Linked DNA regions of Homo sapiens: region 2 is linked to region 1. The links come from fine-mapping of genetic effects on gene expression. A gene starts in region 1. The other region holds a variant in brackets. All regions are shown on one strand. Distances are from middle to middle. Region 1 holds the start of USP36 (ubiquitin specific peptidase 36). Region 2 overlaps USP36 (ubiquitin specific peptidase 36).

Region 1 (12,501 bases):
GGTGGTGTGTAGGTCAAGCACTGGATGGTGGCATTGAGAAAGCAGGTGTTGCCAAGGTTGTGGAGTCCTGCGCCCACGCGGAAGACCCGCTCCCACCTCAGAGACAGTCGCTCCGTGGGGAAAAGCACTTTCTGCGGGGCTGGGACTCCGTCACCACAGCTCTCATACGTGTGCTCACTGCCTGAGGAAGAAAGGGACAAGGGAAGAAAAGAGGAAGACGTAAGTCCACACACAGGTCGTCCACAAAAAGAAACTCCTGAAGCATACACTTAGCATGCAGTGACTCGGAACATGGCACCAGAGAAGAACTGGTGTTCTGGTTTACAGGACATTCCTGGAAAGCTCAGGAGTAAACCCAGCCATCCCACGGACCTCCTAGGCTGCTTGGCTAAAGAATTCAAGGGCCCCTCTATAGATGGAGGACACAGCTCAGAGACTGAGTGGCGGAAGGAGCCAGGCCTGGCACTCTGCACCACACTGTGCCCACATGCAGCCCACCCCATTTCTCTTTCTTAGTTCCAAGCCTGACTTTCGACTGTATTATACTTGGGATAGGGGGACAGCAAGTCCAAGGACCCACCAAGTACACAGATCCACCAAGCACACAGATTTCCTTGCTACCAACCCTGTATCATTACTTCTATAACTGAAATCCACTGACCCCATGTAAAAATTCATAACTCTTTGACCACATTCTCTTGTTTTTCCTACTAATTAGTCAATATTTAAGTCCATCCACTTCGTCACCCCGGAGTGAGGGCCTCTCTGCCAGCACACTGCACATCTGTACCCTGTCTCCTGGCCGGTGGGTCATCTCCACTCTTGTGGCGACTAGCTCCCTCTGTTTTGGGGTTGAGCAACACATATTTGCTCTTTAAGGCCTCCAGCTGGTAGGAGAAGCTCTTGCTGGCTGGCTCGAACTCGATTTTCTGTAAAAGGACCTTCTTGGCAGAGGAGGCAAGAAGCTTCCCCAGTTCTCCATCATCAGCCGAGTCCTTGCGGCCGGGTTTCAGGGCCTCCTTCAACTTATCCACTATTGGCATGGTGCATCACTGTGGGGACAAGAAGAAACATAGAGCCATAGATAACGAAATCCCGGGACAAAAACATCTCTTAAGATCTCCTCTTTGGTCATTATGGATGCTAGCCACCACAAAAGCTCCCCTGGATCAGTGATCCCCTGGATCAGCTGCACAAAGGAAACAGGGAGACCCAGCACTAATCACTTGGACATATTAGTTCACATTTCCCCCACAAAAAGATAAGATGCCACTACAAATAGAGGTGAGCAGACAACAGTGGCCCTGAGGCAGCCAGACAGCCCCTGCCATGTGCATCTCTTCATCAGATACTCATCAAGTGGCTCTGGACATCATTCTTGGTGCCATTTCCTTCCAAAGGTCATCACGTGGTCCAAATGTCTGCTCCAAAACAGGGGCACACTAATTCTCACATACAAACTGGTTATACACACACGGACACACACACACACACACACAAACGGACACACACACACACACCCACGCAATAAATGAATTAGCATGCAGGTCAGATGAGCATGCATGTCTGTACAGACCTGCACTCTTCAATATGAAGGCCACAGGCCACACGTGGCTACTGAGCATGTGAAATGAGGCTAGTCCAGGTTGAGAGGTGCTATAAGTGTAAAATGCACACCAGATTTTGAAGAGAAATACTCACTAGTATAAGAAGAGAATGTAAAACATCCCAGTAATTTTTAGATCAGTTACCTGTTGAAATGGTAATATTTTATATATATTGAGTTAAATAAATTATGAAAATGAATTTCACCTGCTTCTTTTTAATGTGGCTACTATAAAATTTTAAATTATATTTGTGGCTTGTATTAATCTCCATTACACAGTGCTTGGAGTACAAATTATCTTTTTAAAAGTGAGGAAGGAGAAGAAAAGCAAGTAGCAGGCCTAGAGACTAGTATCCATTAGACACCTAAACTTAAACAAATGTCTTCCCAGGACTCTTATCAAAAGAGAAGAAGAAAAGCCAAGCAGGAGAGTGGGGAGATCACAGGCTTTGGAATGTGGTGGCCCCGGGAGGTTCTATCATCCTTAGCTATGAAACCCAGGGACAACTACTATGACTTCTCCAAACCCCCTATTCTACTGTAAAATAGCAACAAAAATAATAGGCTTGGGAAGTGCTTTAGAGCTTGCTACATACTACAGTCCCTAACAGAGGATCGATACTGTTGGTGCAGCTGCATGGAAACTGTAACCAAGAAGAGACCCCTGCACCTCTCCAATCGCTACCTTTGTATCCACCACTTGCCCTCCCCTACCCACCACCTCTCAACTTAACCTTCCCAAACACAGCACAGACTATCTGAGTCACAATTTCAAAAATATGTCCCTTAAATTGCTCACTCACATCAGAAAAATGATGACTTCCTCTGGTATTCAGTACCCAGCCTGCCCTCAGAGAATCAACAAGTCAAGTGTGCCCCAAAATTCTGCTCTAGTGAAAGTAAGGACTTCCTCCAGCACCTCATATTAAGCCATTCAAATTTATCACTGTGGATCATCTAATTCTATACATGGATCAAGTATCTTTTTCTACAAAAACTTCTGTAAAGAAAAGCCAGGTGCAGTGGCCTGGGCCTGTCGTCCCAGATGCTTGGGAGGCTGAGGTGGGAGGATAACTTGAGGGCAGGAGCCTGAGGCTGCAGTGAGCTATGATTACGCCTGTGAATAGCCAGTGCAGTCCAGCCTGGGCAACATCGTGAGACCCCATCTTTAAAACAAAAAAAATCGTGGCTCACGCCTGTAATCCCAGCACTTGGGAGGCCGAGACGGGTGGATCAGGAGGTCAGGAATTCAAGACCAGCCTGGCGAAGATGTTTCTCTACTAAAAATACAAAAAAACTAGCCAGGCATGGTGGCAGGCGCCTGTAATCCCAGCTACGCAGGAGGCTGAGGCAGAGAATTGCTTGAACACGGGAGGCAGAGGTTGGAGTGAGCCGAGATCGCGCCACTGCACTCCAGCCTGGGCAACAGAGCAAGACTTGGTCTCAAAAAAAAAAAAAAACAAAAAACAAAAAACTTCTGTAAAGAAATTTCAGAAGCTTATTTAAAAAAAAGCATTATAAGTTGTCTGATTTGAGAAAATAAAAGAGCCTTTTCTCATGAGAATTATCAAAGACTTCTCACCAACTGAACAATCACTGCTGCGTCACATGCAGACAATTCAACGGAATCAAAAAATACACAGAAGCCTCGCAGACTCACCTGGGATGTGCAGACTTGGGCCTGCTGTCCTACTGCGGCATGGAACCAGGATCTTAACGGAGGGCTGAGTTTGGTTGGGCAGGTGCTACGCGGAGCTCCTGAATGTAAGCGCTCCTGGACTGTGGCCTGTTCAAACACCGAAGCCGCAGAGCGGGCGTCAGAGCCTGTGGGAGGGACAGGGAGACCATCAGTGGAGGCGACTCTTCCTGTGCCTTCTCTTCAGCTACTTCCCAGGGATGCGGCGCGCACCGGGAACCCTCTACCACGAAAAAGCCGTCCAAGGAGCATCCACGCGTGCACTCAGGATGAGGCGGGTGGACCGTACTACCTCATCACCAGTTGTTGTAATGCACACGATATGAACACCTTAACCTTGACCCCAGACAAGCCCAGAGAAGGAAAACCTCCCCAACACCTGCCAGTCAGCTCCAGTCTAATCTTATTTCCAAAGAGTAAGAGGTAATAAATCCCCAAGTTTTGGATTTAATGAACCAGTAAAACTTCAATAACAACAACAACAAACCTCAGGGAGTAATAGGAGTTGCCAAAATTTTGCTTTGCTAAGTGTGGATTTTCTCTTTCATTACCATCTACGATCACTATGATTACATAAAATTAAGGTTCGTAAAAACAGTTTACAGTGAAAACATTCAAACACACAGATGGAGAACCGCACAGGGAGCACATGAGCCCCCCTTATTCAGCCTCAGTAACTACATCTGACCCATCCTGAGTCACTTCCCATCCCCAGGTAATTCTACAGCAAATCTCAGACCTATGACTTCATCCATAAATAAAAGCATACCAACTCCCGAAAAATGTGTAAGGAAATGATCTCAGAATAAAAGCCATCTACAAAGTGAAGACATCCAGTCGTATTAAAAACTCCCCACAATATCACTGCTTTCGGTTAGGACTCACATCTACCCTGGAAGGTGAGAACTCTGTCATGCACAACCAACGCTTGAGAACCACTTAGGGAGGGGATAAACGAACCTTGGGAGATGTAACCCAGTTTCACTCGAGATAAGTAACTTTGAACTTAACCCACTCCTTAATGTAGATGCAGAGATTTTGAACACAATTTTTCAAGTGGGACAGGTCAATCTCTACTTCACCAATTCCACCTAAAACATTAAGCAATAACCTAAACAACGCTCGCTCGCTCTCTGACGTGTAGGAGCCCGAGACAAGTGTTCCTGTAATCACTAGCAATCCCTCCGACGCACACACCATCCACACTCTACCCAACTCAGGAAGGATGCTCTCTCTTGTCCAAGGACAGCACAGGCCTCATCCACATTTCCACCTGCGCGAACCCCAGCCAGCACCATTTAGGCTCATTCCCGCTCCCTCCTCCTTCTAAAGTCACTTTTCCAGGATGAACTGCAACGGACGCTCGCAGGGTCAACCACGTGCTGGGGAGAGGAGCCCACGGAAGCAGCGGCCTCCCGGGGCCCAGCGCCGCGCTCCAGGGGCCTCCCGGGCGACTCCGCAGCGCCTGCCCCGAGCCCGGCCGCGGACACAGCGACCCGAGCACCTCTCCCCGAGCATGGCTCCGTGGCGAGCGTTACGTAAACGGGGGCGCGCGGAGTCTCCCCTCTCGTGTGTCTGGGTTTGGCGGCCGCCACTCCAGCCCCAGGCCCAGGACCCCCACGCCACCCGCCAGAAGCAGCAGCATCGGAACCGCACCCCGCCCCGGGCTCCATGGCCTCCTCCGCAACCACGAGGAAGGTGCCCGCCCCGGGGCCGCACCCGCCCCGCTGAGCTCTGCGGCCGCACGCGACGCCCTCGCCCTGATTCCGACTTCAACCTCTCCGAAGTTGACCTGAATCCTGCACAGACAGCGGGCCCCGGCGACCCCCATCACCGGCCCGGAGCCCGGGGGACGGCGGAGACCGGCGAGGACAGCCCGGCCCCGGACCCTCCTCGGGAATACCCGGGCTCTGGAGAAGCGAGCTCGCGAGCGGGCGGAGCATCCCGGGTCCTCCTCGGGGACGGCCGAAGCCCTGCGCGGACCCGCGCCCACGTTCTCCCTGAGCGTCCCGGCTGCGCCCGCCAGCCCTTCCCGCGCCCCAGGCCTCGCGGAACCCCCCGCCCCGGTCTCGTCCCCAGGCCTGCGCACCGCCCCGACCCGACCCCAGCCTACCCCGGCCTCTCCGCGGGCGCGCCACAAGCCTACGCAGCCCTGGCGACTCCTTCGGCCCGCGGCCCAGCACGCGCACCATCCGGGCCTCCGGCGCCTCACACACGTGTCACCGCGACGCTTAAAGGCGCCGCACCCAGCGTTCGCGCTGCGCTAACTCCGAAAGGGTTGGGAGGCTTTAAGAGGCGGGGCTAGATTCCGCTAACTCCCTGTCCCCGCCCACCGCCGCTTCCGTGTCGCCTACGTCACCTCCCCATCACGGGACCCCGCCAGCCTACGTGATGACGCAAGTGCGCAGAGCCACAGGCGCTCCCGCCCCTGTGCCGCGGCAGGGTGACGTCTCCGCAGCGCACTAGAGGTGCCGCTACTTCCGGGTCGGCCGAGCACACCTGGCGGCGTGGCGGACGCCTGAAGTGTGACAGTGGCGCGCGCCCCCGCCCCAGAACGGGGACTCGAGGGACTTTGCCCACCCCTGCAACAGCCCTCCCGCGCTGTCTCCCGGGCAGGGAGAAGGCTGGGCTCCCCCACCTGCCCCTGGCCGTCAGGTGGCTGTGGAGAAGCGGAGGCGCGGGCGCTCGGCCTTAACGTCCCGGGCTCTGGGGCCATCCGTGACTCCCACACGCGGAGCACCTGCAGTTTGGGGAGGGAGGGATCTGGGAGCGATCGGCCAAAGCCTGGGGCTGCCGAGGAAATGGCTCTTCGGAATTAGGGATCTGAGAGTGTGAGATTTGACCTTTGTAGGCTGGTGGCGGCTGTGCAATCTCTAGCTCCACCCACTCCCTCCAAAAGCTTTGTCCTCTGACAGCTCTGCGAAGGTTTTAGCTGAGTATTTGTGAGCACGTATTTCTTTTGCAGTATTTTTAAAAATCCTCTTGATCTGAGGCAACTTCGCTGGCTTCCTCCCCATTCCCTTGGGCAGGTTGAGAGTGTTGGTTCCTGGCCTGACCTCAGAAACTCAGAGAAGCACAGGATGGGCATAAACTACTTTATCCAAAAGGCAGAACTTTGCAAACACAGTCGTATCTGCTGTGTCTTTTTTGATGTAAGTAGGAATGATGAGTAGGGTGAAGTCACAGGTAAACAACCCAAAACGAATTTCCATGCCCTCCCCACGGATCCTAAAGCAGGGACTGGAGATGGGGAGAGAGGCTAGATGTACTTGGAACAAAATTCACCTTGTATTTATTACCTGGGCGCTGGTGTTTTTTGAAAAAAGCAAACAAGATAACCATATTAGTCTGATGCTGAGACTATGCCCTATCTGTAAGAATCCTTGGGCTGGGCGCGGTGGCTCACCCTTGTAATCCCAACACTTGGAGGCCAAGGTGGGCGGATCACCTGAGGTCAGGAGTTCGAGACCAGCATGGCCAACATGGTGAAACCCCGTCTCTACTAAACATACAAAAATTAGCTGGGTGTGGTGGTGGGCGCCTGTAATCCCAGCTACTCAGGAGGCTGAGGCACGAGAATCCCTTGAACCTAGGAGGCGGAGGTTGCAGCGAGCTGAGATGTCGCCACTGCACTCCAGCCTGGGCGACAGAGCGAGACTCCGTCTCAAAAGAAAAGAAAAGAAAAGAAAAAAAGGCAGGGCACAGTGGCTCACGCCTGTAATCCTAGCACTTTGGGAGGCCGAGGCAGGCAGATCGCTTGAGGTCAGGAATTCCAGACCAGCCTGGCCAACATGGTGAAAACCTGTCTCTACTAAAAATACAAAAATTAGCTGGGTATGGTGGCGCACGCCTGTAATCCGAGCTACTAGGGAGGCTGAGACAGGAGAATCGCTTGTACCTGGGAGGTGGAGGTTGCAATGAGCTGAGATCGTGCCATTGCACTCCAGCAGCCTGGACAACAGAGCAATACTTGGTCTAAAAAAAAAAAAAAGAAAGAAATGCAACGTAGGTCTCTCACGAAATTAGCCCAAATCTTCAGCCATCTTCTACAGGCTGTGAAACCAGGAGAGGAATTGAGTCCATCTTACCTTGACCTCCCAGGCAGGGAGCGGACCAGGTAATTTTTGGGTGACAATACAACTATTCTGTTAATGCACCTTTTTCTTGAGGTAAGTTCTAATGTGATCCGTTTTGGTTACAGCTTTCTATAACAGAATATTTTATTCTTTCATCTTTAATGTTTCTCTAGTTTTCTCTTTTAGGATTTAGAGATCATTCAGTCTCATCTCAAATATTTCAATTTCCATGTGGTTCTTTCATAAACATTTATCCACAGTGAGCCTGCCCTGCATTCTTTGGGTGTGGCTGACAGTTGCAGCCACCCTCAGGTCTGCGGGGGTGGGTGTGTTGCCCCTGAACTGCAATAGCAGAATTTCTCCCTAGCCTGGCAGGGGAGTGCAATCGTGGACTTGCTTTTCCACCCGCTGGGGTTGCATTTCATAGGTGCCGAGTGCCTGGGGGGCCCAGGCCTTTTCACATGAGGGTTTTCAGCCCAGATGTCCCTCCTGCTCTAGGGGAACCCTTCACATCAGTCAGGTGACTTGCTGGACTGGTAGAGCCTCTGCCATCAGCCTCTGATGCAAAACCTTTTCTCAGGTGTCTGTGCGGTCCATGGAGACCCGAGTTCCCAGGTTTGGGAGGGATGCCACTTTCCTTAGGAAGAACAGCAATGTATGTCGTCCTTCCCATCCATGCAGATGGGACAGGGCTCTCAGGAAATCTGCCATTAGCATCGCCCTAGAAGATGCACAGGCAGAGGCAGCTGCTGGGCACAGGCACTTGGGGAAGACAGGAGCCATGACGCCACGCCACCTGTTGGTACCCAAAGGAAGTGGCTCTTTTGGCTGCTTGGCACCATTCTTATGACCCTTCCATTTTGTTTCTAGTCTCAGAAGGGGTGGAGAAAGTCATCCTTCCTAAATGGTGTTGACTCTCAGACATCTGACCGTGCCAGGAGAATGGCTGTGCAAGGCGGCAGCCCAGGCCCGGGCAGGTGGCGGCCAGGAGTTGGGACCACAGAGGGCACTAGCAAGAGCAGCAGCTGCTCCGAGATGCTTTGGCACAAGTCAGGATACGTATTTTGTAGTTTTCTCTTGTTTTTTATTTTTCTGAGGTGGAGTCTCACTCTGTCGCCCAGGCTGGAGTGCAGTGGTGCAATCTCAGCTCACTGCAAGCTCCGCCTCCCGGGTTCAAGCGATTATCGTGTCTCGGCCTCCAGAGTAGCTGGGATCACAGGTGCACGCCACCACACCCAGCTGATTTTTGTATTTTTAGTAGAGATGGGGTTTCGCCATGTTTGGTCTTGAACTCTTGGCCTCAGGTGATCTGCCCCCCTCAGCCTCCCAGAGTGCAAGGATTACAGGCGTGAGCCACCGCACCCCACCTCCCGGCCTTTTCTCTTGTTTCATTTTGGTAAACTAAATTAGTTTAATACCTCTACCCCATCGGTGGTTGGAATTCCCCACCTCAATCATTTTGGGGGCTCTCTGCCTCCTTTGAATAGGACAGATCTCCAGGGGTTTACCCAGGCTCCGAAGAGCCACTCCAGGCAGCCGGCTGTTTGGGGAGGTGCACCCTGGTCTTCTAGTCTGCGGATTCCCTGCATCGCTCCCCTGGTACTGCTCTCAAGCTCAAGGGTCACCTCAGCCAGATGTGCCCTAGGCTGGCAGAGGTCCTTCCCCTAAATGCAGCTGGGCAGGATGCCACCCTTTCTACAATAAGTTCGGTCCCAGGGATTCCCCCAACACACACACACATACATTCTCTCTTACTCACATCCTCACACACACTCACACACCCCACCACACTCACACACTTTCAAAATCCACCGACTCTCACGCTCACACTCGCCAGCCCTTTCCCTTGCTCTGTCACTTCCCTCCAAGTCCCCGCCCCACACAGCCTCCTGCAGTCCCAGCCCCCTTGGTGCCAGCCATCTCTGGTGCCAGCCATCTCCCCCAAATATCCACCCTTCTGGGCTCCTTTCTGCCCAGAGGGACCTGAAGTTTCCCTAGGAAGCACTTGCTAAAGGCCTCCAGTCTCCAACTCCTGGGGAAGAAGGATCCAGGCCTCTGCCGCACAAAGCCTCCACTGTTCTCTTGGGGCTGGCACCCCTTCCTGTGGCCCTGTGGCACCAAACAAATTGATTCATCCAGCGAATATTTCTTATTTACTCTGTTCCACATGGTGGTGAGTGAATCAACCCTGGACTCTCCCCACAAAGGACTTAAGAACACGCAGGTCATGAACAAATGAACACTTTTGCATAATTTTTATGACCAACGGTGACCAGGCCAAGAGCAGGATGAGGTGATGGAGAATACCTTGGCCTGGGGCATCGGAGGAAACTCTTGCGAGGATGTGCTACCTCCGTTGAAAGTGGGAAGATGAGAGACCGGCTGTAAGAGGAGCAAGGGAAGGAGGTTCTGGAATGAGAGAACAGCACGAACAAAATGCCCGAGACAGGAGCGAGCTTGGCACCTTCAAGAAAATAAAGAGGAGAATCACTGAACCTGGCACGTGGAGGTTGCAATGAGCTGAGATCGCGCCACTGCACTCCAGCCTGCGAGACAGAGCGAGACTCCATCTCAAAAAAAAAAAAAAAAAAAAAAAGGAAAGAAAAGGAGGCCATTGGGATGGCTGAGGCTGGAAGGGTGGACCAGGTGCCCCACAGGCAAGAGGTCCCAACTATAGATGAAGCACGCAGGCTACAGACAGGTGAGTGGTGCCTCGGGTGAGAGGCAAGTTTGTCTCCATAGGTCATCCTGCTACACGGAATTCTCCAGAATCCCCTGCAAAGGTGTAGATGGGCTGGGTGCAGTAGCTCATGCCTCTAATCCCAGCACTTTGGGAGGTCGAGTCGGGCGGATCACCTTGAGGTCAGAAGTTCAAGACCAGCCTGACTAACATGGTGAAACCCTGTCTCAACTAGAATACAAAAATTAGCTGGGCATGGTGGCATTTGCCTGTAGTCCCATCTACTCAGGAGGCTGAGGCAGGAGAATTGCTTGAACCCGGGAGGTGGAGGTTGCAGTGAGCCGAGATCGCGCCACCGCACTCCAGCCTTGGTGACAGAGCGAGACTCTGTCTCAAAAAAAAAAAAAAAAAAAAAGGTGTAGATGGCTTATGCTTTGTGATTTTCAATGTGACTTGTTTTTATTTTTTTCCAAATCTATAGGTCTTTTATTGAATCATCTAAATATCACAGATACTTAGGTCTGAGGAGTCATCCAACATCGTGTTTCTGTAGCTGGACAACTCTTAGAACCTCCTCAGCAGCCTGCGGAACTGTTCCTTTTTAGGAGACGTAGACAGCACCCCAACATTTTCTGATATCCTTGTTTTTAACTATTGCTGCTTGCTGAATCAGAGCAGCTGAATTTGAACAAGACTGAAACAAGCTCAATGTCGCTTCCTTCAAAGATTAATTCGACATTCTGGGCTTGAGATACTGAATAAGCAACACCTGGCCTCATCCGAACCCTGCAGATGGATTTTCCACCCAAGATGTTTCAGATTTCAACGAGAGTCCCGTTCTCCTGGATAACGACGTTTCTGGGGAAGTGAGCACCCACAGAGGTCATCTTGTAATGGAACCCAGGGCAACCCCTTTGACCATGCTCCGTACACGACTATGAACAGTCCCAACGGCAGCCGGCTCCCTTCAGTTTCCCCACCGTTTGTCAACCCGGAGCCTCTTTTCCTTTCCAAGGAGACTGAGTTCTACATTGATGTGATTGAAGTCTCTCCTCAAGGCTGTGTGCAGTGGCTCACACCTGTAATCCCAACACTTTGGGAGGCAGAGGCAGGCGGATCACTTGAGGCCAGGAGTTTGAGAGCAGCCTGGCCAACATGGTGAAACCATGTCTCTACTAAAAATACAAAAATTAGCCAGGCGTGGTGGCACATGCCTGTAGTCTCAGCTACTAGGGAGGCTGAGGCAGGAAAATTGCTTGAACCCAGGAGGCGGAGGTTGCAGTGAGCCAAGATCGCACCACTGCACTCCAGCCTGGGCGACAGGGCAAGACCCTGTCTCAAAAAAATAAAATAAATAAATAAATAAATAAATAAATAAAGTCCTTCCTCAGGGTTCCTCTCAGGCCCTTCCCAATAACTGTGTGTTCCTTTAGAGTAATGTTGACCTTTTCTGGAATATCCATGGGTTGGTTGCTGGGAACGGTCTTCATTCTCACAGTAGATGCGGCAAAGACAGCAGTTTTACTTTTTTAATATAACTTCCAGGCATCTTAACCTTGGAATTTTGAACATACTAGGACGTGTCTTTCCATGAATATTGTAAATTGTCAGGCTGGTCTAACAAGGCGGTTTTGGAATTCCACTTTGGGAGGTGTAGGAAGAATAACTTTAGAGCGGACCAACCCTCAGACACTGCTGGTAGGCATGTAAAATGGTGCAGTCACTGCAGAAAACAGGACAGTGCTTCCTCCAAAAGCGAAACATAGGACTACTATACATACTATCTATACATACTATATAAACTGTATATATACACTATGTATACAGTATAGACATAGTATATATGTCTACACTATATACATAGTATATACACATAGTATATACACATAGTATATATACATAGTATATACCCAGTATATATACATAGTATATACACAGTATATATACATAGTATATACACAGTATATATACATAGTATATACATATAGATATACGTATATACTATGTATGTAGATATAGATACTATCTATATATATATTATGCTTCCAGACTTAATTATTGCAATACAATTTTTTGTGTACTATTATGTATAATTATATTGTAATTTTATTATTTATTTATTTTTGAGACGGAGTCTTGCTCTGTCACCCAGTCTGGAGTGCAGTGGTGCCATCTCAGCTCACTGCAACCTCTGTCTCCCGGATTCAAGGGATTCTTCTGCCTCAGCCTCCCGAGTAGCTATTACAGGTGTCGCGCCACCATGCCCGGCTAGTTTTTTGTATTTTTAGTAGAGATGCGATTTCACCATGTTGGCCAGGCTGGTCTTGAACCCCTGACCTCAGGTGATCCACCCTCCTTGGCCCCTCAAAGTGCTGGGATTCCAGGCGTGAGCCACCGCGCCTGGACTGTATTGCAATAATTATACATAATACTACATATATAC
Region 2 (12,501 bases), 36 kb before region 1:
TACTCATAATTAGTCAACAATTTTGAGTGCCACCTTGTGGTGAAGAGAAGGACAAGAGGAGGACGGCTCGACGCCCATGTGTGGTCGGTCAGCATGGAACCCCCAGCGATGCCCTCTTAGCTAAACCCTAAACCACAGCCAAAGAGTTCAGTTCTTTCTAAACCCATGCCCTCGTCTGAGGAACAAAGATGTCATGTTTGGTCTCGAAGTCTGAATAAAAACATGCTCTGAGCAAGAAGTGACATTACCCAGGTTGGAAGAGCTTCGTCACTCTGCCCCTTCCCTACCCAAGACACAGCATGTGTGGGGCTCCTCACCCTGCCCCAACCCTCAGAAGCAGCTGTTCTGGATCCTGCCACGGACAGAAGCCACCTTCGTGCCACGGCTGAGGGTTTAAAGAGGACTCCAGCCAGTGTTGAGATTCCTCTTCCCATTCTCAAAGCCGAGCGATGCCCGCCCGCCACACTCACAGTGCACCAGGATCCATTCCACACCCTTCCCTCCTACAAAACCAACCAATGAAAGGCAAACAGAAGTCCTGTCTCCAAATCAGTACCTTTTCTCCCGTAAGCTTTATCAGATGAGTATTTGAGCAGTTCCTGGACCACATCAGACTCCCGCTCTCCATTCCAAGACACAGGAGGGGCCTGGCTCAGCCCTGCAATCGGAGCAGCCAAGAAACATTTACAGACGTTTAAAATAACCCACTGGGGAAGCAATCGCACACCTTAAATTATAAAACAACTTACAGTAAGTGGATGCTTGCCTTTTTTTTTTTTTTTTTTTTTTTTTTTTAAAGACAGGGTCTCACTATGTTTCCTAGGTTGGTCTCAAACTCCTTGGGACTCCCACTGGCCTCCCAAGGTGCTGGGATTACAGGCATGAGCCATGGCGCCCAGCCTAAATGCTTATTTACTAATGCTTACATGCTTAATTTACTAATGACCTGACACAATAGAGAAGGCTGTTGTCCAAGTCAATTCATGAGAAAGAAAACATGGAAAATAACAAAAAGCTAAAAACCAAAAAAAAAAAAACCCTCCAAAACCCCTTTAACCAGTAGTGTTAAGTCCTCAGTCTGACAGAAGGAGAGAAGAGAACTAGATCTAAATGGAATCCACCTCACCTACGGGAGAGGCCCATGCCCCAGGACCAGCCTGACACCTGGATGGCCACAGGGGTGGAGGGAACGGCCAAGCTTGGCTGCTGCCATCAGGGGCCCGACCTCCTAAGCCCTGTCCAGGGGGAACCTGGTCCCCATCAGCAACACCGCACAGGTCCACCCAGCACCTCGGGACCAGGACAGCACTCACCACCCTCATCGGGTTCTAGAAACCCTTTCTGAACTCGTCCTCTGCCCAGCTAGCCACATAGCCCCTGGAATATACTCACCTCCCTTCACACAAATCTGACCTCATTTCTCCCTGCCTCCAATTCCTCAGTGAGCTCCAGGCTAAGTGTCCCCTGCCCCCACACAGTGGCTTCCATGGTTCCCATCTCATCCACACAGCCCAGGGACCCGGCCATGCAGAGCAGCCTGCCTGCTCCCAACGTGCTGCGCCTCCTGCCCTTGGGTCTGGTGCCCTGCCCATTTAGCCACTCTCCTCAGGTGCACAGGACTGCAAGAGCCCATGCGGCCCCCAGCGCCTCCTTGCTGAGCATGAGCCCTTACTGTGTGGTTCTGGCTCTGCCAGGGAGCCCCGAGGGCCCAGGGCGCACTTCAGTAGACACAACCAGCACCTGGCATGGACCCTGGCGCACCGCAAGTGCTCAAGTGATGTCCCTTGCACTAACAAGCCAACTCCACTTCGCTCCGAGGGTGGCACGGAGCACAGCTCTGGTGCCATGTTAGGGCAGTATTTTTTTTTTTTTTTTTTTTTTTTTGAGACGGAGTCTCACTCTGTCACCCAGGCTGGAGTGCAGTGGCGCAATCTCGGCTCACTGCAAGCTCCGCCTCCTGGGTTCACACCATTCTCCTGCCTCAGCCTCCCGAGTAGCTGGGACTAGAGGCGCCCGCCACCATGCCTGGCTAACTTTTTGTATTTTTAGTAGAGACGGGGTTTCACCGTGTCAGCCAGGATGGTCTCGATCTCCTAACCTTGTGATCCGCCCGCCTCGGCCTCCCAAAGTGTTGGGATTACAGGCGTGAGCCACCACCCCCGGCCAGGGCAGTACTTCTGAGAGCATGCTGGCCAGCAAACTCAGTCGGCACTAGCTAGCACCCACGTTTTGCTATTTATTTCATACCATTTCATTTTTAACGATAAATTCCTTTCTTAAGAGTTGGATAAATACAAATCAGTCTCTAAGGTCCTGCTGACCCCCAGATGCACTGCCATAATCAGACCTTCCAGACTGCAGAGGAGGCCTCACTCAAGCTCGGCCCCCTATACCAAGCAGCCAGGACTTTCTCTCCCCTTCACTTAACAAATGTGTTCTGTGGCGGGTGCCTGCCAAGGCATGCCCCAGCCAGCCCTAAAGAAAACAAAACACCCTCCGATTGAGGGGTGGTGCCCAAGGACAGCCACAGCACACAGGTCCCCAACAGCAAGCAAACCGTGCTATGTTCTGAATGGCCCAGCTACATAGAGGGAGAGGAGGATTCACTTTTGAACCCAACTCTTCTAAATTCAACCATCACAGAAAAAAACTCAGGCTGGGAGTTCAGGGAGTCATTCCGTGAGAAGCTGTAGACAGAACAGCTTTGAATCGGAAGACCCACTGGCATTCACAGAATGTTTTAAAGTTCATGTGCACTGTAACCTCTCTCATGGGGCTGTTTCAGTCAAATGCTGTGACACATGAGGAAGCTTCAACCCCATCACCCAAGGGAGCAGACTCGGGGGTGGGGGGTGAAGGTTGGTAGGGTCCCAGGGCCCTCCACATCTTCTCCCAGACCCTCCCAAGCTCAGATGCAGTAGACGCTGCTCTCAGCCTGTGCACTCCCCAATACCCCCTCACCCGGTGCACACCCACGCGGTCCCCCACCCCCTTGCCCGGTGCACACCCACGCGGTCCCCCAACCCCTCGCCTGGTGCACACCCACGCGGTCCCCCACCCCCTCGCCCGGTGCACACCCACGCGGTCCAACCCCTCGCCCAGTGCACGCCCATGCGGTCCCCCAACCCCTCGCCCGGTGCACACCCATGCGGTCCCCCAACCCCTCGCCCGGTGCACACCCATGCGGTTCCCACCCCCTCGCCCGGTGCATACCCATGCGGTCCCCAGGACACCAGCCATTCGCGGATGGTGCGCAGCTGCTGGACTCGGGGACAACAGCATCTTGGGGCTTGGCACTCCTTGGGCATTTGAGATGCCCATCCTCTTCTACTGCCCGCTGTGTCTCCTGCTTTCTTTTTTTCTTTTTCTTTTTCCTTGGAGACTCTTCCATGGCCTCTGGATCACCATCACCCATGGGAGAGCAGCTGCTTGGAAGTGAGAGGCAGCAGTCAGCTCTGAGCAAATTGGAAGGGGAGCAGGAGCGCACAGACACCCGCCTGCAACATGGAGAAGGTGCCACCCCAGCTGTGACCCAGTGCACGCAGGTCCCTGCAACATTCTTCCCCCCACACGCATTAGCGGACGCTCCACACGCAGCCACGGAGACAGTAGAGGGAAAACCAGTCGCGTTTCCCATCCTAACTGAGCCAAGCCTGTTGACGCCAATGTGCAGGCTACTGTGACCTGATGAAACGGCAGATCCTGGCCTGGCCCGGGACACCTGATCCAGCATCCTTGAACGGCCCTGCACATACAATGATGGACACTACTGTCCACACCACTGTCGCTTCAAGGATCAATCCACTGGTATTTATCAGAGGAGATATTTTTTCTTTTTTCTTTTTTTTTAGACAGGGTTTAGCTGTCACCCAGGCTGTAGTGCAGTGACGCGATCTCAGCTCACTGCAACCTCCACCTCCTGGGCTCAAACCATCCTCCCACCTCAGCCTCCTGAGTAGCTGGGACTATAGGTGCATGCCACCATGCCCAACCAATTTTTGTTTTTGGTAGAGAAAGGGCTTTTCCATATTGCCTAGGCTGGTCTCAAACTCCTGGGTTGAAGTGATCCACCCGCCTCAGCCTCCCAAAGTGCTAGGATTACAGGTGTGAGCCACCACACCCAGCCAGAGGAGACATCTGATCACAAATCCACATTTTAGAAAACCACGCAAGCAGACTACGTTTCCAGACCATACCTACTTGGGGGTAGATTCTGTGGTTTTGCTTTGTTTCTCGTCAGAGGTAGACAGATGCCACTTTGCTCCTGCCCTTACCTGTGCCGAAGTGGGTCCTGGTGCAGGCCGCCTTCTTCACCAAGACCTTCTGCTCCTTTCCTCCTCCGCTTCCTGCTGCTCGCGTGGTGGCCGTCCGTAACACATCCCACCTGCTGGCCATTCACCTGTGGCTGTGTGCCATCTTCCTGCCGTCTGACAGCGGGCAGCTGTGCCTGGCCCTCCCTCCTGTACATGGGGCTCCCAGGCTGTCTCTGTGTCTGCCCCTCCTGCAGGGCGCTGGCAGCTGTGTCCTCCGGGCGCTTCTTCTTCTTCCTCTTCCTCTTCCCGTGGGGAGCCGCAGTGGCCTCCCTGATGTGCTGTGGGAGGCGCGTCTCTGAGCCCAGCCTCTGCGGCTCTCCCACAAAGGTCTTTTTCCTCTTCTCAGAGGGGCTCTGGGGGGGCTCACTGGCCTCTGGCAACTGGTGTGGAAGAGACACAAGGTCCTCGTTGACCTGAGGCAGCGCCGTCGAGATGGAGGAGCAGCTCCGTGGTTCTGACGTCCCTGGGGGCTTGGGGGTACTGGACAGCAATGTGGGGTGGGGGCTGAAGGGGGGTTGCAGGCGGCTGGATGATTGGGGAGCAGGTGACACAGCCCTGTGGGGACAGCCAGGAAACAGGGAGAGGATGTTCTGAAAGACCCAGCAGAGCTGTTCCTTCTGTCTACCCTCACTCCCCTCCCTTTCACCTAAAAATCTGAAAAGGCTTTTACCCTGTA[G/C]TTTTCAGATACACATTAAGTTACATGTATGTTTGAAAGAAAGCTAACAATTAATTCAACATCTATTTAAATGCAAAGTTGGCCAGGTACAGTGGCTCATGCCTATAATTCCAGCACTTTGGGAAGCCAAGGTGGCTGGATCACCTGAGGTCAGAAGTTTGAGACCAGCCTAGCCAACATGGTGAAACCCCATCTCTACTAAAAATACAAAATTAGCCGGGCGTGGTGGCACACGCCTGTAATCTCAGCTAGTCAGGAGACTGAGGCAGGAGAATCGCTTGAACCTGGGAGGTGGAGGTTGCAGTGAGCCGAATCGCGCCACTGCACTCCAGCCTGGGCGACAAAGCAAGACTCCGTCTCAAAAAAAAAAAAAACCAAAAAAACAAAAACAAAAACAAAAAAAAAAAAACAAAGTTACCTAGGTGGTGGGTTGATAGGTGCAGCAAACCACCATGGCACCTCTGTAACAAACCTTTACATCCTGCACATGTACCCTGGAACTTAAAATAACTGATCCCTGAGATTTAAAAAAAAAAAAAAAAAAAAAAAAAAAAGCAAGCCAACACGTGATTTTAAAAGTCAAAAAAAAAATTTTTTTTTTTTTAAAAGGCAAAGTTAATAAGAATTGTTCCATGCCTTAGTTTCTTGTCACCAAGCAATTCAAGTATTTTTGCGAGCTCTAATGTAAAAACATCTTTAATACAAATGTGTTAAGGGAGGAAACCTTCACGAAACAATAAATGGTAAGGAAAAAAAAGATCCCGTGAGGATTTATTTTCCAACCTCCGAAAGTCTCAGGGTGTTCCCGGGCAGGAAATGAGCCTCATAAGGAAAGCAAGTGTTGAGCTGGCCTAATGACACCTCCACATTACCGTCATTAGGACGCTGAAACCGGGACACAGATGCGTAGAGCAGAATCATGAGCAAGGCGTGTCCGGGACAGGATCTAGTGCCGAACCCAGTGAGGCTCCCTCTTGCCAGCTATGTGTCTCTAGGAAAATTAACTTCCCACTCTGAACCACCATGTTCTCATTTGTCAATGAGCTGGGACCACAAAGCCCACCTCCCAGGGTTCCTGCAGAAAACAGGACCCCCGTCATCATCTAAACAAACTATAAGGGCCATGCCAGCTGCACGATGTTTGATTACTCTAAGTGTCTTCTGGAATCTTTTCCAAAAAAGCTTATAAGGCAAGAAACGAAAAACACCCAAACACTTAAGGCCCTCCCACGTACACAAATCTTATGCTAGGTATAGGGCAGAGGTGTGCTTGTGTGTGTATATGTGAGAGGAGAGTAAGGCAGAGGCTGTGGGCGACGCACAGTCATACCTCGCCCTCATGTAGCACTGGAGATTCTAGAACTAGAACCCAGCGCCGAGGCCACCAGTACAGTCCCCGCAGGCCGCCTCATGACTCACCCCATCTTTCACTGCTTCCGTCCCCACTCCCAGCGGCTTCCAGACAGCCATTTACCAGTTACTCTCAACTTCCTGCCACTCGAGGCACCTAAGAGACGCAGGCAGCCCCTGCGGACCAGGGCCCACATGCACAGGGAAGGGGCTGCATCTCTGGCAGGTGTCTGCAGAGGAACCCGAGAGCCCTGAGACAGTTCTTAACCTGCATGACGCTAGCAGGCAAGACGTCCCACAAAAAACGCTCGGGACTCCGAGCTCACTCAAGCCTCTCGCCAAGGCCTCACTTCGCCTTTCTCTTCGACTGGGAAGTACTGTCATGGGGCTGGTAGGGATACAGGACAGGTCAGTCCCCAGCACACCACATCACCACAAGGATGTCGCAGACAGACCACCAACAAAGACAGAACTAAGACATCAGGACTGCAGAGGCCGAACTGCCTTCACCACCCAAAGCTCCTTTACCACAGGGGAACACAGAAGAGGGGGATCTTGGTCAGTGACGCCCCCCTGTACCTCCTGGCTGCCCCAATGCTTTGTCTGTCCTGTGAGGTTGGCGATTCGTCCAACTCCTCACCAGCCAAGCACACGCAACCACAGGGAGAACCAGTTGGCACCCAGAAGATCCCGGCCCAAAGCTTACCTGGCTCTATGGACGGGCCAAGTGGAGGCAACGACGGGGTGAGAGGTTTTCATGGGGTGGGTGAGGTCGGAGGATGGTGAGGGGGGAGGTGGACGGAGGTCATTGCCGGTCGCCCTCCACAGGGTGCTGGCCTGCAGTTATCGACATAAATAAAAACTTGGTGGTCTAAAAAAGGTTTCCGTGAGTGAAGAGGGAAAACAAAAGTAACAAAAAATGAAAATAAAAACAAAAGAGCCCAGAAAAAAAGATGAGGAGACAGAAGAAGACAAAAAGGGGAGGTGAGGGGCAGGGGAATGGTAGAAGAAGAACCAGAAAAGTATTTTTGGTTAGAAACAAAAAAAAGGAAGAAAATTTAAACAAAAATCTCAGCACAACAATCACATCCACGTGCCGTGGCTGCCCAAGCTTCCTGCTGCAGAGGTGCCGGGCACCCCACTGGGGCTCTGCGCTTCCTGCCCGCCCCACCCCTGCTAGGGACACGTGCTGGTGGGGCCCACCCTCCCTCGGGTTCAGTCAGGATCTTCCACCTACTGTGAAAACAGGGAACTGCTACCTTGCCCAAACCTCCATGAGTCACATGAGCATCACCAGATCAGGGCTCTCTCAACACCCCATACTGCCTTCACCCCAAGATAGCCGTTCTTTAATTGCAAATGGCTGGGAACGACTAAAAGACACTTTGTTCCTCTAACATGAGGGAGGCCAAAGCCCCCGGACAATGTTCTCACTCCCTTCAAACCACAACCAAGCAACTCTTGGAGCTCTCCTGATACACAGCAGCGGCGAGACCCCCACACACCCACCTTCTTGGCAGAAAGGGCCAGTTTTTTGGCTGGTGGAGGAGACATGGTGCTTGCAGGCTCAGTGGTGGTGTTGCTCAGGACAGGGGACTTCAGCTTCACCGTCTTAGAATCTGCTCCACTTGGCGGCGTTTTGGAGTGGCCAGCGGTGGAACAGTTCGTTTCCTGAGAATCGCAGAGATGGGCCGCTCCACTCCTGGGGGTCTGGGGGGCCTTGGTGGAGTCGCTGCTGGCCGAGTGCTCTGGGCTGGAGCTGCTGGAGCCCCTCCTGTCGAGGCCAGCGCTCTCGTCGTTCCCCTTCAGCCCATGCCCGTTGGCAGTGGCTGTAGCCAGGAGCTTAGGTGAGGTAGAGAGGACAACATCCCTGCTGTCCCAGGAGCCCTGCCTTTGGCTCCCAGATCTGCTGCTATTCGAGTTGCTGGTCCCAGGCAGCCCCTGAGCAGTTCTGGGGGAAAAGTGCTGTGGAGGAGCTGGCTTCTTCACCTTCTTTCCAGGGTCGTCTAGGATGGTTGGCATGTGTGTGGGTGTCTGGGAGAGTTTGGGGGAAGGGGACCCCGAGGGCAGCTTTGGAGGAATGCAGCCGTTCTGGGACTTCAGGCCCAGGGTGGAGCCATTCCTGGATATGGGCACACCAATCTCTTCAGTGGTGTGCGGCTTCTTCATCGTCCCAGAGTCTTGTCGCTAAGGAGACCAAAGCAGAAAACACAACTGAGGAAGCGAGAAGTCTCAGCTGGGCCACATCTTCTTAAGGCCACAGTGAATCTTAGTAGCAGGCATGGCCTCTGATTAGCATGCTCAAGATAAATTATTTATCTGGACTCTTGGTAAAGACACTGTGGCTTCTCTGAACAATTCTGGTGTTCTGTGACATCCCAAGAACAGGGACCACAGCCGTGTACCACCACACCTGGCTAATTTCTGTATTTTTGACAGAGATGGGGTTTCACCATGTTGGCCAGGCTGGTCTCAAACTTCTGGCCTCGAGCAGTCCACCTGCCTCAGCCTCCAGAAGTGTTGGGATTACAGGTGTGAGCCATAGCACCTGGCCTGAATACATATCTTTATGGCCACCTTTACTATAAAACCAGTACATTTTCATCAAGATTTGGGAAGAGAAAAAAGTATAAAGGAAGAAATTTAGCAAAGTTCCATCACCTAAACATAACCATGCATTAACATTCTAGTGCTTTCTTTTTTCAATCTTTTCTTCCAAATGGTTCTGGCCTGAAGAGTTGCATCCCAGTTTTATCTTAAAGCTATTATCTCAAGCATTTTTATGGGCGATAACTCTCAATAAATATCTTTAAGACAGAGCCTTGCTCTGTTGCCCAGGCTGGAGTGCAGTGGCATGATGATGTCATCATAACTCACTGCAGCCTCAACCTTCTGGGCTCAAGAGATCCTCCCACTTCAGCTGCCCAACTGGCTAGGACTATAGGAGTAGACCACCACACCCGAATAATTATTACTATTTTGTAGAGATGGGGATCTTGCTATGTTGCCCCGGCTAGCCTTGAATTCCTGAGCTCAAGCAATCCTCCCACCCTGGCCTCTCAAAGTGCTGGGATTACAGGCCTGAGCAACTGCACCCTGCCTGTCGGCCTGTCTTTGACATTTTACTATATATACTATGTACTACTGATACACATTAACTGTATGGTTAATTTATATAAGCTATATTGTCTCCAACTGTTGAAATTAAAAATACTGTACAGTATATGTGTGTGTATCCTTTACCCTTCAGAGCACTTATTACAACTGCATAGAAATAACTTATTATTCTGTATTTAGATGCTGAATGTCAGCCTTCCCCTGCTTGACCAAGAGGCTGTACCCGTTATCTCTCTCGTTCCCACTGCAGCCCTCACCAGCAACTCAAGGGTCTGGTATAGAGTCGGTGCTTAAAAAATATTTGTTGAGCTTTTCCTGTACTTAGTACTCCATGCTAATTTTCTGGAAATGGAATTACAAGGCTAATTTTCTGGAAATGAAATTACAGATTTCATTTTCATGAAATCTGATGCAAAATGCCAAACTGCTTTTACTATACTCCAGCCACATCTATTTTTCAAAACATTTGCTAATTTGACACTCGTTTGGGCTATTACCACTTTAACATTCATATTCTCTGCACATGCACTAAAGTGATCTTCATTTGAATGAGATCTTTTGTTTACAAATGTTAACCTTTTGTTGACAATATTTTACAAGGTTTTATTGCTTCATTTGTTTGTAGTAAATTATGTACAAAAATGTAAATCTTAGTCAATTCATAATTCTTCTACATTTTATCCTTCAACTTTAAGCATACAAAGTCTTCTTCCCTTCCCAGAGGTTAAGAATTTACCTCTATTTTCTTCCAAGTTTTGTTTTGTTCCCTACATTCTATTCTTTGTTAATACTGTTTTCTAAAAGGAATTCATCTTTCCACTGCACCGCAAAGCCGTTTCACTGGCTGAACATTTCCATACACACTAGAACTTGCACCATGTCATTTAGAGTAAAACGGCTCGTCTGCTTGCAGTGTATTTGGAAAATCACGTTTGTAATGAAAATGCTCATGGTCAGTGAAGCGCCCCTGCAGGTGTGCCTGACACAGGGACTCTCCTTGAGCCAATCTCCACCCTCGGGCATCACTCTGCCCATGGAGTTCCTGTGGCAAGTGGGGCTTCCTTTGTTTTTCTGGGGTTTTTTGAGACAGGGTCTCATTCTGTTGTCCAGGCTGGAGCGCAGTGGCACAATGATAGCTCAATGCAGCCTTGTGTTTAAGTGATCCTCCTGCCTCAACCTCCAAACAGCTGGGACAACAGACGTGCACCACCACACCTGGCTAATTTTTGCACTTTTTTTGGAGATGGGGTTTTGGAGATGGGGGTCTTTCTATGTTGCCCAGGCTGCTTCCTTTTTTTGAGATGGAGTCCCGCTCTGTCACCCAGGCTGGAGTGCAGTGGCACAATCTCAGCTCACTGCAACCTCCACCTCCCGGGTTCAAGCGATTCTCCTACCTCGGCCTCTCGAATAGCTGGGATTACAGGCGCACGCCACCATGCCCAGCTAACTTTTGTATTTTTAGTAGAGACAGGGTCTCACCATATTGGCAAGCTGGTCTCAAACTCCTGACCTCAAATGGTCCACCCACCTCAGCCTCCCAAAGTGCCCGGCCCCCCTCTTCTTTTTTTTGTAGACAAGGTCTCACTCTGTCACCTTGCCTGGAATTCACCAGCGTGATCATGGCTCACTGCATACAGCCTCAACCTCCCGGGTTCAAGTGATCCTCCCCCAACAGCTTACTGAATATTCTCTGTGCTGATGGGATCTATGTTGCCCAGGCTACTTTTTAAATTTGTTTTGAGACAGGGTCTTGCTCTGTTGCCCAGGCTGGTGTGGAGTGGTATGATCATGACTCACTCCAGCCTTAATCTCCCTGGCTCAAGTGATCCTCCCACCTCAGCCTCCTGAGTAGCTGGGAATACAGGCACGTGCCATTAAACCTGGCTAGCTTTTGCATTTTTAGTAGAGACAGGGTTTTGCCCAGGTTGGTCTCGAACTCCTGGGATCCACTGATCTTCCCACATCGGCTTCCCAAAGTGTTGGAATTACAGACATGAGTCACAGTCCCAGGCCCAGGCTGCTTCCTAACTTCCTAGTCTGGGCTACAGTGACCACCAACTTTGCAATTATATCATGTATTTTACTGCCACTTCAATTCTAATGCTTCTAATTTCAGCTTCTATTTTCTTTAATGTGAAGAGAAATACAGATGTACGTAAATGACCAAAACCCCTGCAGACTGTGAAAGGCCCTGACTGCCTGTGTGTGGGGTTCAACTCTTCATTCTAAAGGGAGAGGAAGACGATCCATCAAAAACAGTCATCCAGGCCGGGCACGGTGGCTCATGCCTGTATCCCAGGACTCTGGGAGGTCAAGCTGAGCGAATCACTTGAGGTCAGGAGTTCCAGACCAGCCTGGCCAACATGGTGAAACCCCATCTCTACTAAAACTACAAAAATTAGCCGGGAGTGCTGGCGGGCACCTGTAATTACAGCTACTCAGGAGGCAGAGGCAGGAGAATCGCTTGAACCCAAGAGGCGGAGGCTGCATAGTGGCAGAGGCTGCAGTGAGCTGAGATGGCGCCACTGCACTCCAGCCTCAGTGACAGAGCGAGACTCTGTCTCAAAAAAAAAAAAAAAAAAAAAAAAAGAAACAGTCATCAAGAGGGTCCACCCCACTTCAAATGATCACTGTGTTCTAATGAGGAAACTGCTCATGAATCCACTTAGTGAAACTGAATTCTTAACAGTTCTAGCAGAAAATTTCAAATACACACAAAGGTAACTTAGAGGGTAGTTCCTAATGGTTAACCTGTAACCACATAACCTTTATCATCCTCTCTCTGTATGTATATGTACGTGTGTATATATGTATGACTATGTACGTATGCATATACACATATTTCTATTTCTGATCCATTTGAGTAAATTGCAGACATGATGTTCTTTTACCCCAAAATATGTCCATGTGTATTTCCAAAGAACAAAGACACTCTCTTACATAACCACAGCAGAATTACCCAAATCAGGAAATTAACATTGGTACAAACTACTCACATTTTCCCCGTTAAATGTGAGAACAGGCCGGGCACAGTGGCTCACGTCT

Evidence for each region.
Region 2: its variant is fine-mapped to the expression of USP36 in B cells (CEDAR, PIP 0.95).

Annotation. Positions count from the first base shown.
Region 1 is chr17:78,835,321-78,847,821 of GRCh38, forward strand. It overlaps USP36 (ubiquitin specific peptidase 36), which reads right to left and starts at 5,494. Exons shown (of 21, transcript NM_001385174.1): 1 at 5,416-5,494; 2 at 3,267-3,430; 3 at 791-1,052; 4 at 1-181. The coding sequence starts at 1,043. LOC124904067 (a long non-coding RNA gene) reads left to right here and starts at 5,794. Exons shown (of 2, transcript XR_007065923.1): 1 at 5,794-10,079; 2 at 10,540-11,472. It also overlaps the pseudogene RPL9P29. RefSeq lists enhancers at 2,948-3,462, 3,463-3,977, 5,572-5,761 and silencers at 4,902-5,421, 5,882-5,981.
Region 2 is chr17:78,799,111-78,811,611 of GRCh38, forward strand. It overlaps USP36 (ubiquitin specific peptidase 36), which reads right to left. Exons shown (of 21, transcript NM_001385174.1): 14 at 7,849-8,526; 15 at 7,046-7,176; 16 at 4,275-4,868; 17 at 3,214-3,425; 18 at 557-658. Among named protein-coding and RNA genes, the nearest start is that of CYTH1, 23 kb to the left of the region's middle. The variant G/C (reference allele first, on the strand shown) is at 4,990.